Regions from separate parts of the Homo sapiens genome. Here region 1 is linked to region 2. Evidence: fine-mapped expression QTL. A gene starts in region 2. The other region holds a variant in brackets. All regions are shown on one strand. Distances are between the middles of the regions. Region 1 overlaps DAGLA (diacylglycerol lipase alpha). Region 2 holds the start of DAGLA (diacylglycerol lipase alpha).

Evidence for each region.
Region 1: its variant is fine-mapped to the expression of DAGLA in cerebellum (GTEx, PIP above 0.99). The same link has a PIP of 0.9 or more in cerebellar hemisphere.

The regions. Positions count from the first base shown.
Region 1 is chr11:61,708,652-61,714,014 of GRCh38, reverse strand. All of the region lies in intron 1 of DAGLA (diacylglycerol lipase alpha), which reads right to left. Among named protein-coding and RNA genes, the nearest start is that of DAGLA, 31 kb to the right of the region's middle. The variant C/T (reference allele first, on the strand shown) is at 2,282.
Region 2 is chr11:61,677,728-61,683,090 of GRCh38, reverse strand. It overlaps DAGLA (diacylglycerol lipase alpha), which reads right to left and starts at 2,700. Exons shown (of 20, transcript NM_006133.3): 1 at 2,587-2,700. RefSeq lists an enhancer at 1-503.

The DNA of each region.
Region 1 (5,363 bases), 31 kb before region 2:
TTGACCCTTGGTGTCCTGAAGGGAGAGCCCAGGACTCCCATTTCCATGACGAATGGGATTCCTATGTGAAAGGGCTTTGAAATTGGAAGGTGGTCCAAAATAGTGGAGAGGAACTGATGCCTACTGCCTGCTATGCTCTCGTGGTCCATCCGATTTTGAATGTGCCTTGTTGGGCACTGGAGCTTATCTGGTCTGGGGGTGGGCATCTGATCTGCGGGACTCAGCACAGTGAGGCTGGGCCCCCCAGTGGTGCCCCGCAGGACACTGGTGGCCCGCCCCCCAGCAGAGGCGTTGTGTTCAGAGGCTCCACCCCAGCTAGGGTGGGCTCACCAGCAGGTCGCTGTCTGGCCTCGCTGGGCTGGCAGACAGGTCCTGCTCTCTTTAGCACAGGCTTTGGTCGTGGTGAGATTCCAGCTGTTCACTGTGGCTGCAGGACTGTGGTAGCGAGTTAACCTCTCTGCACTGGTGAAACTGCAGGCTCCAGGATCCTGGGTAGTGACAGGGACAGAATGATCTCAGCCACCTATAAGTTGGGGACTGGGCTGCTTCGGTTCTCCTAACATTTATGAATTGCCTACAAGGTCTCGGCGCACATCTATGCCCTTTACAAACATGAACTCACCTAGTCCTCATAACAGTTCTGTGAGGTAGGTACTACCCTTCCCCTTATTTGACAGATGAGCTGAAGTGACTTGCCCACAGCCACACAGCCTAGGCCCAGAACCCAGGTCTTTACCTCTGCATGCTGTTTCTGAGAAGCAGGATTCAGCTAAATGCCTGTTTCTGAACTCAAAAGCTGGCTCTAAGCCTCTTCTTACAGACTGAGGAGCTCTCTGGGTCTTCATCTAGCTTCAGACTCACAATCATGTGGGATAGCACGGGACCCATTCTGCAGATGAGGAAAACTGAGCCCAGGGGAATTCCACGGAGCAGGCTGTGGAGTCGGGAGAGAGCAAGGCACTAGAAACACTATGTGTCATCCACCTCCAGCCTCATCAGGCCACAGGGTATTACCCCAACTTTACAGATGAAGAAACCAAGGCTCAGAGAGGCAAAATGGTTTGCACGAAGATCCCTCCACGAGGACATCGCAGAGCTGGGATTTCAAGTAGCTTCCTTGAACTACTTGCAAGAAAAAAATACCCTCTCTGCCTGTCAGTCTGACTCCTTATTGTCACAAACACAGAGACAGTAGGACCCACAGGTCCCACCCCAGGCTCCCGGGGCTACAGTACCTTCCCCTTCTTCCCAGTGGCCGAGAGGCTGGCCTCTGAAAGCACAGGAGGGGAGAGGTGACAAGGGAGACGACGGAGAGAAAGCACGTGTGGGCTGGGGGCCACGTGCGCCACCAGCCTGTACCTGGGTGTGTGCAACCCAAGTTAGGGGCCTGAAAGCTGTCGCTTTTCACACATCAGCTGCGCTAGAGCAGAAGGCAGAGCGGAGCCTGCCCAGGACTGGGGCCAGATTTCAGCATGAGATAGGTCCTCACACGCCCAGGCCTAGGGATGAAAACAGTGTGCCTTGTGCAGCCAGGGGCAGGAGTGGGAGGCCACTGACATTTGTCCCCTCCTACCCGCCGCCCAGGGTCTTAGGCTAACAAACGCCTTTCCCACTCTCCCCCAGGATGGCCTGGAAGGACCAGAGGAGGCACCTCCTCCACCCCTCACCATGTGCCAGCCACATAACCATCCTCACTACAACCCCAGGGGTGGGTCTAGCTGTTCGCATGTCATGGATCGGGAAACTGAGGCTCCAAGAATTTAAAGAAGCTAGCAAGTGAGTGTCCAAGTCAGGCTCTGAAGCCAGGTCTACCTGCTGTGTTCTCTCTGTGCCCTCCTCGTGCTTCTTGGCCAGAGACCCCTCCCCTATAAAACAGCAGTCAGGGAGCTGGGCACAGAGTTCAGGGAGGAGGACGGAAAGAGAAGCTCCAGTGACTTGGGGGCAATGCCAGCCTGGGCCGGACCCAGAAATAGTTCCAACAATTACTCGATCGTGTTTATTTAAAAACAAACTCTTATATAGCATTTACTACATGCTGGTTACTTTAACAAGCAGTTCACAAAAATTACCTCCTTTAATGTAATCCTTTTAACAACCTCTTATGCCCTGTATTATGGATGAAGAAATGGAGGCCCAGAGAGGCTAAATAAGTTGCCCAAGGCCACTCAGCTCTTCAGCGGCAGAGCCAGGCCTGAGGTTGCAGGGCCTGTGCTCCAGGCCTCTCCCCAGAAGGCTTCACCAGGGCTCCATTTATTACCAAGGCTCCAGCTACTCGTTCTCA[C/T]GCTAATTATTTTCTACTCATCCACAATGAGCAGAATTTGCCATCTGCCACCAGCCCTGCTACTGACACCAGCCAACTCCCTGGGAATCAATTGAGGCCTTTCGTTTCCTGCTGGTTATTTTGGAAAGATGGCTGGCTGCTGGGGAGCGGGAAGTGAGGGCCAGGAGGGCAGCAGCACCCTTCCCTGGCGACCAGGCTGGGCCCTCCTCCTGCCCCCAGCCTTCCTCTGACCTCTCTTCCCAGGGGGATTCACATCAGAGCCCACTCAGTCCTGTGCTCCGACAATGTTTTCCAACAGTGGAAGGAGTCCCCCAGGCTCTGGCCAGACCAGGTCTGGCTTCTGGATTCTTCCTTGGAGATTATTCATTTTTCTGAAACTCAGAACAAGCCCTTGTCCCACACGTCCACATCCCCTCTGGAGAGGCCCAGACAGGCGGGTTCTGCTGGCCTCTGTGATGGGTGCGGCCGGGCAGCCTGGATCTCCAAGCCCTCACGCAAAGGCCGACACCGCCCCACACTGGGTGGCACCAGGCTGTTTTCTCCTGCCTGTCTGTGGGGAAGGGTGTCTGTGGTTTTCGTCCTTTCTACCTGCCCCGGTGGTCTTCTTGGTCAGTCCCCTCATGCCCTAACACGTCTTTACCCCACTCTCCCGGGAACGCGACTCTCTCAAAGGCATCGACTTGGAGGGGGTGGCCATCCAATGAGCTGACCGAGGCCTGCCTTCTGGCCCCAGAGCAGGGCAGCCCGAATTTGAATCTTAGTTCCATCACTTCTAGTTGTCTATGACTGTCACTTCACTGAGCGTCAGTCTCCTCATCTGTAAGATGGAATAATGAAGGTACTCACTTCATAGTGAGTGAGTCATGAGGAGTTAACGAAATAACGCACATAAAGTGCTCAGCTCTTAGAAAACAGGAGCTGCCATCATTGTGATTTAGTAACCATGTCTCCCCAGTGTGCGCAGAACCTTTACCTCACCTTGCATGGCAGGGGCAATAACTCTCCGCGATCTAAGTCAATCTTCCCAAACAGACAGGTGAGCAGGCTGACCCACACCTGCCCTCACCCTTCCAGCCTGCATAATCCTCTGACTTGCCTTCTTGGAAAGGGAGAGCTCCAACTCCTAGGAGCCCAGCACGGCCGCACTGGCACTGCCTCCTTTAATCCACAACCACCCAGGGAGAGGGGACCCAACACCCCTGGGACAGCTTGAGCCACAGAGTTCTCGCCCAAGGCCACAAGACTCTAGAACACTCCAAAGCCTGAGATCCTGCCAGGATGCCCCGCATCTATCAGCTTGCATGTTTGAGTTTCAGGGTGTCTCATTGCAGGCCCCTTCCCAGCTCAAACGCAGGATGCCCTGAGAGGTAGCGGTCCCCCCTCCCTTTAAGCCCATCTGCCCTTCCAGCTTTCCACTGGCCCCACCCTCTGCTCCTCCCCCCAGAGTCACCCCCTCTCCTAGGAGCCACTTGCTGGGACCTCACTCCCCAGATGGCCCCCCTGCCAGGCAGTTCATCAGCTCCCAGCACGAATCCCAGCGCTCTGGCTTCTCAGAACTTCCTTGAGAGGAGACTCCGTCTGGGTGCTGGCAACGCCTCAGTGAAGAATTAGTACCTTCCACTTCATTAGGGGCCCCCTAATGAAGCTGTTAATGATATGCTAAGTGGGCACACCTAGCCTGATGCCTCCCCTCTTGGGGCCCCCGCCCCCTTGCCCAGCCTACCCTGAGCCCTGGTCCTGCTGCCTCCTCTCCTCAGGCTGTGGGTTGGCCCTCGGGGTCTGGCTGGTGTGGGTGCCTGCTGCTCAAAGGTGGGGAGGCTTCGTGGGCCACCTCCCTAAGCTGCATGGCCATCTAGGGCACAGGCTGGCCAACTGGGCTATTGGGTTTCCCTTCGACTGTACCCCGGGCATCTCGGAAGCAAGCAGGGATCAAGTGACTTCGTAACAGGAGCTCTTTCCCCAGGGGAAGAGGTTCTGCAGAGCTCTAGTATGTGACAGGAAGGGCCAACATCCCCTGCCCCCACAGAGACTGGAGAGGGAGGTGGCACCTGCCACCACCAATGGCACACAGGCTGCAGCCCCGTCCCCTCCCTCTGTCACCCTCCTCTCCTTCTGTGCTCAATGAGGGGGATCTCAGTGCTCTTCAGTGGGTTTCCAGAAGCCCTCAGGGACCCCAGATGAGGGGAGGTGGCCATAGTGGGCAGGCTTCAGTGGGCTTGCAGGCAATGTCAACCACAGCAGCTTTCAGCTGCTCTGGATCACCTGAGGTCAGGAGTTCGAGACCAGCCTAGCCAACATGGTGAAACCCCGTCTCTACAAAAAATTAGCGGGGCGTGGTGGTGCATGCCTGTAATCCCAGCTACTTGGGAGGCTATGGCAGGATAATTGCTTGAACCGGGAGGTGGAGGTTGCAGTGAGCGAAGATTGCGACATTGCACTCCAGCCAGCCTTGGCCTCCCAAAATAGCTCTAGGTGACAGAACTAGACTCTGTCTCAAAAAACAAACAAACAAACAAACAAACAAAGTTTGAAAGCCACTAAGCAGGATATGCTCTCAGGTCCATTCTAGTCTGGACTTTTAGAGTTTTACTTGCAGAATGGCCAAGGAGAGAGCCTGGGGGCTACATACAGGTGCCTGAGCTCACACAATGATCACAGCATTTCCTCCCCTCGCCTGAGCCAGGAGGGCAAAAGGGGCCACAGAAAAAAGTCACTGACCCAGAAGCTTAGAGACCTGGGCCTACAGCTGACTATTCTGTCCTTCAGACCTCCCTATCCCCTCCCATCACCCCAGGCAGGGCAAAGCTGGACCCAAGCACAAGGCCTCCAGGAAGGGGCAGGGGCTCAGAAGGCCCCTGCTGCCGGGTGGAGGACAGGACTGGACCCGGCTTTGGTCCCAGTGCCTTGATTTACTCAAACGGCCACAGAGTTGTGACCTTCAATATACAACGCAGCCCTCTCCTCGTCTATAAAATAGGATGAGGATGATGACAGTGCCTCCCTCTTGGGGTGGCTGGGAGGACAAAGCGAGTTAAAAGTTGTAAAGTGTGAGGCTGGGCGTGGTGGCTCACGCCTGTAGTCC
Region 2 (5,363 bases):
GCGCCATGGGGCAGGGTCTGCAACTCAGGCTCTGCAGCTTGTTGTCGGGAATTAGGCTCCTGGTGGCAGAGAGCAAAGCACTGTGCAGCCACCCTCATCCTCCCCACCTGGGAAGGCACTTCAGCCAGAAGTGGGGCCACATTGGGAGAGGTGCCACACCTGTCTGCCCTCAGAGGTGCCTGTAGCCCCCTTTCCTTTCCCCTATGTGTCTGAGGGCATCCTCCACACCTCCCCCCCCCGTCCCCCTGCCATCCAGCCTCAACCTCCCGCAGAACCATCCAGACCTGAGCCACATCGATCTGTGGATGCTCTGACCCACTTCATTTCCTTCAGGCCACAGCCCAAAAGACGCTGATGTGACTGCTCCCCACCCCCGTTCTCAGAACCCAGAGCCAAAGGAAATTCTCCAGAGAAAACACACACACTTCCCAAGTCTTCCTCCCACACAGGTACCCTAGATCTGTCAGCCACAGACACCTCCCAGACCTACCCTGGCAATGAGGCACGTCTGCTGCCCAAGCAAAGTGCTTCCTCCTGCTTGGGCCACTCCTGCAGGACTTCACAGCTGCCGGGGCCATGCTCAGGACTGTCCTCTGGAGACCGGGGGCCTGGTTCCAGCTCAGCAGCTGACTCACAGTGTCAACAGATCCCACTTGCCCCCACCGGGAGCATGTGCGCTCAGGGCCTCTAATTCCCTATGACAGGCCCTCAACCTTCCGGCTCCCTTCCTCCCAATCACATCCCGTGCCACCATTTCCTATGGCTCCTGCCTCCAGCCCTGGTCTCTTTACTTGATGAGACTCTCTGACCTTTGTACAGTCTTTCGCTGTTTGCAAAGTGTTTCCACGTGCACCATTTCCTTTCATTCTTTACTACCAGACCACCATGTGACATGCCTTGATTGGTGAAGTCACCTGCTGAAGGTCACACAGCCAACACTGGAATTAAAGTGATATGGCTCCAAAGGCATCGGACAGTGCTCCGGTTATAGGGAACTCATCAGCATCTCCAAGCACCCACCTTGGCAATTTGGCGACCACCTGCCACCCTACCCTCAACATCATCTTTTTGGACTCATAAGTGCCTTCCCCAGCACAAGCTCAACCCTGTGATTCTTCTACCACTGATCCCACTCCCCCAAGAGATCCACAAAGAACTGAAGATTTCCCCTACACTGTAAGACTTCTCTAGGAGGAGCTGCAAATTGCTTCTCTGTAAAGTAAGGCACTAGGTGATGCTGAGTGAGACCTTCACCCAAAGCTTCCCAAAGGACTGGTGAGAGCAAACACAATCTCAGCGCAGATGGAGGGGTTTTAACATAGGAGCTAAGCAGAGAGGACAGACAGAGCCCTTGGAAAGGAATTTAAGCCTGGGGGTGGGAGTCCCGGTGGCCCCAGCAGATTCCCAGTGGCTGCAGAATCATCTTTCAAGCATACCCCAATCGATCCAATCCTCTGGACCCAAAGGCTCCCCAGCATCAAAGAAGAGAGGCAACTCCCAGATACCCTGGAGTGAACCCATCAACCCAGGGAGAAGGCAGGACCCCGTGACTACAGATAGATGGTGCGCCATACCACTCCCTCACTCGCTGACCCGGGTTACCTCTTGGTCCTGCTTGCTTCTCAGGACATATTCTGGGACACCGATCACCACTGAAAATCATCCACCCCTCCCTTCATTCCCAAAGCTAGATGAAAAGCTAGATGAATGGTTCTCTCTACCTTAGCCCAGGACAACGGTAGTGCCTGGAAGGTCTCTATCTGGGTTACCATCAGGGCCCTTGTGGTAGAAGCTTCTCCTGGCATCTCTTGTTTATGCCCATTATAAAGGACACCAACCTTCTCCCAGCCTTCTGCCCTCCTCAGTCCAGTGTACCCAACAGGCATTAAAACTGGACCCCCATGACAGAGGCAGTGTCCCCTTCATCGCCCGTGAGGAAGGATGGGCATTTACCCTTCCCATTCATCAGGATGGGAGGGCCACGGACTCCCCCCGCGGCAGTGCCGGGTAGCCCCCCGCACCACACCGTGCCAAGGCCCTTTCTCACAGTCATGCCAGGAACTCTAGCCATGCTGAGAACACCAATTCTTCAAGCCCCCAGTGCTATCACCCCAGATCATGTCAAGCCCAAGGCCAGAACCATCCCAACACCCAAGCAATGGCAGCACTTCCTCACACCCATGCTAGCGGCACCACCATGCCGGCACGAGCTGGCCACCTATCCCATAACCAGTCCGAAGGCCGTGCCCATCACCTACCTGTGCAGACAGCTGCACCACCTCACACCTGCGTGGCCACCACCGCACCAAGGTGGAGGCGAGTCTTCTGAGACCCGTTCCAGGAAAACCACGCCGCCTGTGCCGGACCCACGTTGCCCACGCCCGTGCCACGCGTGTCACCATCCCCACGCTGGTGCCAGGGGCTCCACAGACCTCACACCTGCCACGGGCGCGCGTGGCAGCTGCAACTCCGCCCGCCGACCCGTCGGGCCGGCCACCGCGCGCCCTGGACACTGCCCAGCCCGCCGCGCCGCTCGCACCGCGCCCGCGCCCAGGACCGGCCCGCCGCGCCGGAGGCCCCCCTTACCTCCCGCCCGCCGCAGGGCTCGGCCCGCCGCCGCGACCGCCACCTCCATCCTGGGCTCCCCAAGGCCCCGATTCACTAACGCCGCTTCCGCAGGGCGCCGGCGCCGGCGCGAAGGCCGCCTCCGCCCCCCGGGGGACGCTGCGTCCTTTACGTAAACCCCTCTCCGCCGCCAGCGGTGACCATGGCGACGGTCGTGGGGAGGCAGCGCCCCCTGGCGCCAGGGAGGGGAGCGGCGTCGAGGCCAGGGAGAGCCGAGTCTTCCGCGGGCGCCGGCCCTGCGCGTGGGGGCGGTGGGCGCCTGGCTCAGGCTCGGCTGGGGTCCCGTGGGCGGCCGGGAGGGGCTGGACTGGCCGCGATGCGTGCGGGGAAGGGAGCCGCCTGGGTGCCTGCCCCTCCTTTAGGTCCCTCGTGACCAGTTTTAGCGTGGGAGAGGGAAAAAAGGAAGTAGGATCACTGGAGAACTGGTTCATTTGTGGGGAGGAGAGAGACGGGTCCCACCTCCTCGGGGTGACTGAACTCTGCTTGAGAAGTCAGAGCATGGCTAGAGTTCCTGGCGTGACTGTGAGAAAGGGCCTTGGCACGGTGTGGTGCAGGGGTCTACCCGGCACTGCCGTGGGGGGAGTCCGTGGCCCTCCCATCCTGATGAATGGGAAGGGTAAATGCCCATCCTTCCCCACGGGCGACAGAGCCCGTGGGTACCCTGGGTACCCCCTCCTCCCTACCACCCCCCCACCCCCCACCCCTACCCCCGTTCCCAGTGCCCAGCATCGTGCCTGGTCTCCAAAGGGGTTTACTTGGTCAATTTTGAATTTCTGGTAAATGAAGAAAACCGCCCCTCCTGTTCCCCTTCACGCCCTTTCATTCACCGTAAGTCGCTTACACCTCCCTGGGAGCACTGTGCTGAACTGGGGGAGTGGAGCACAGAGAGGAGCAGAAGGCGGGCCCTGACTTCAAGGAGCTCATTCTGCTGGGGAGGAGACGCAGATGGAGGGGGTTTTAACACAGAAGCTAAGCCGAGAGGACAGACAGAGCCCTTGGAAAGGAATTTAAGCCTGGGGATGGGAGTCCAGTCTGCAGGTCGGGATGACTCAGCTGGGTCCCAAAGATCCAGTAAAGATTCATCAGAGACAAAAAGGGGAAGAACGTTTTCTTTCAGGCAAGAGAAGTGCCTCTAAAATGTTTCCTAGGCCCTGTTGCCACCCCCAAAATCACAGTGATCGCGCAGTTCAGTAGAAGTGGGAGCCATAGGTGAACAAGGAGGTGTGGGTAGTGGGGTGCCCGGCTTGAGCAGAAGCCTCGGTCTGAAAATTACGTGGACATTTGGGTTGGAAATGAGACTGTGAGGCCAGGACTGCCTTTTATTGAAGCAGATGGAGCCACTTCTGGAAGGAGTTCTGTGTTACCTGTGATTATTTAGAAAGCAAACTCACGTAGGTAACAAGGAAAATGAGGAGTGGGCGCATATACCCAGTGGGGCACCTCAGGGGATTCAAGGAGGAGTTGAATTCCTCAAGGCTCAGGAAGGGCAGAGATCAGGGGAGGCTTTAAGGGACAACTGTAGCAGTATCAGTTTAGGGATCTTCTTTCTAGATCATTGCCATTAATCAGAATCAAAACTGCCAGATTGGATGTCTCTTGGTTCAAAGTTCCCGATTCCCAGAAAAAAAGAATCTTATTAGTCCAGATCAGGCCACGGTCAATCAGCTATGGCCAGGGCAGAAAGTGCTTTGTGATACAAACATGTCAGTCCACTTTTCCCCGTTGAGAGACACTCCCAGAGGAGGAGAATCATGACCTGAACAGCCAGTCCAAAGACTGTCGGCCAGGGGCGGTGGCTCATGCCTGTAATCCCAGCACTTTGGGAGGCAGAGGCAGGTGGATCACCTGAGGTCAGGAGTTCGAGACCAGTCTGGCCAACATGGTGAAACCCTATCTCTACCAAAGTACAAAAATTAGCCTGGCATGATGGCAGGTGCCTGTAATCCCAGCTACTCGGGAGGCTGAGGCGGAAGAATCACTTGAACGTGGGAGGCAGAGGTTGCAGTGAGCCGAGATCGTGCCATTGCACTCTAGCCTGGGCAAGAGAGCCAGACTCCATCTCAAAAAAAAAAAAAAAAAAAGGCTGTCTACTACGGATCCATCCCTTAGCTGTCCCATGTACACAAACTCACATGTGTCCATGTGCACACATGTGTCCCGACACACGCCAGTCCTTCTTCCCATTCCTCCAAAGTTGTCTTCACCAGACAAGTACCAACAGTCACCTTCACACTTGATGTCATGAGGCTACTATTATTTCAAGATCTTCAAGGTGATTGATCCCATCTGGTCATTTAACTGAATTAAAGGGTTACTTTTACCATCACCAAATCCTTTGAACTCTTGCTACTCAGAGTGAGACATTGGCACCACCCAGAAGCTTAACGGGAATGCATAATCTCAGGCCCAAGAATCTCAGGTTGGCAACAAGATTCCCAGGTGATTTGAATGCACATGAAAGGCTGAGAAACACCACTATTATAAATGTTAGGTGACCGGGTGCGGTGGCTCACACCTGTAATCCCAGCACTTTGGGAGGCTGAGGCGGGTGGATCACCTGAGGTCAGGAGTTCAAGACCAGCCTGACCAACATGGTGAAACCCCATCTCTACTAAAAATACAAAAATCAGCTGGGCATGGTGATGGGCACCTGTAATCCCAGCTATTCGGGAGGCTGAGGCAGGAGAGTTGCTTGAACCCGGGAGGTGGAGGTTGCAGTGAGCCGAGATCCCGCTACT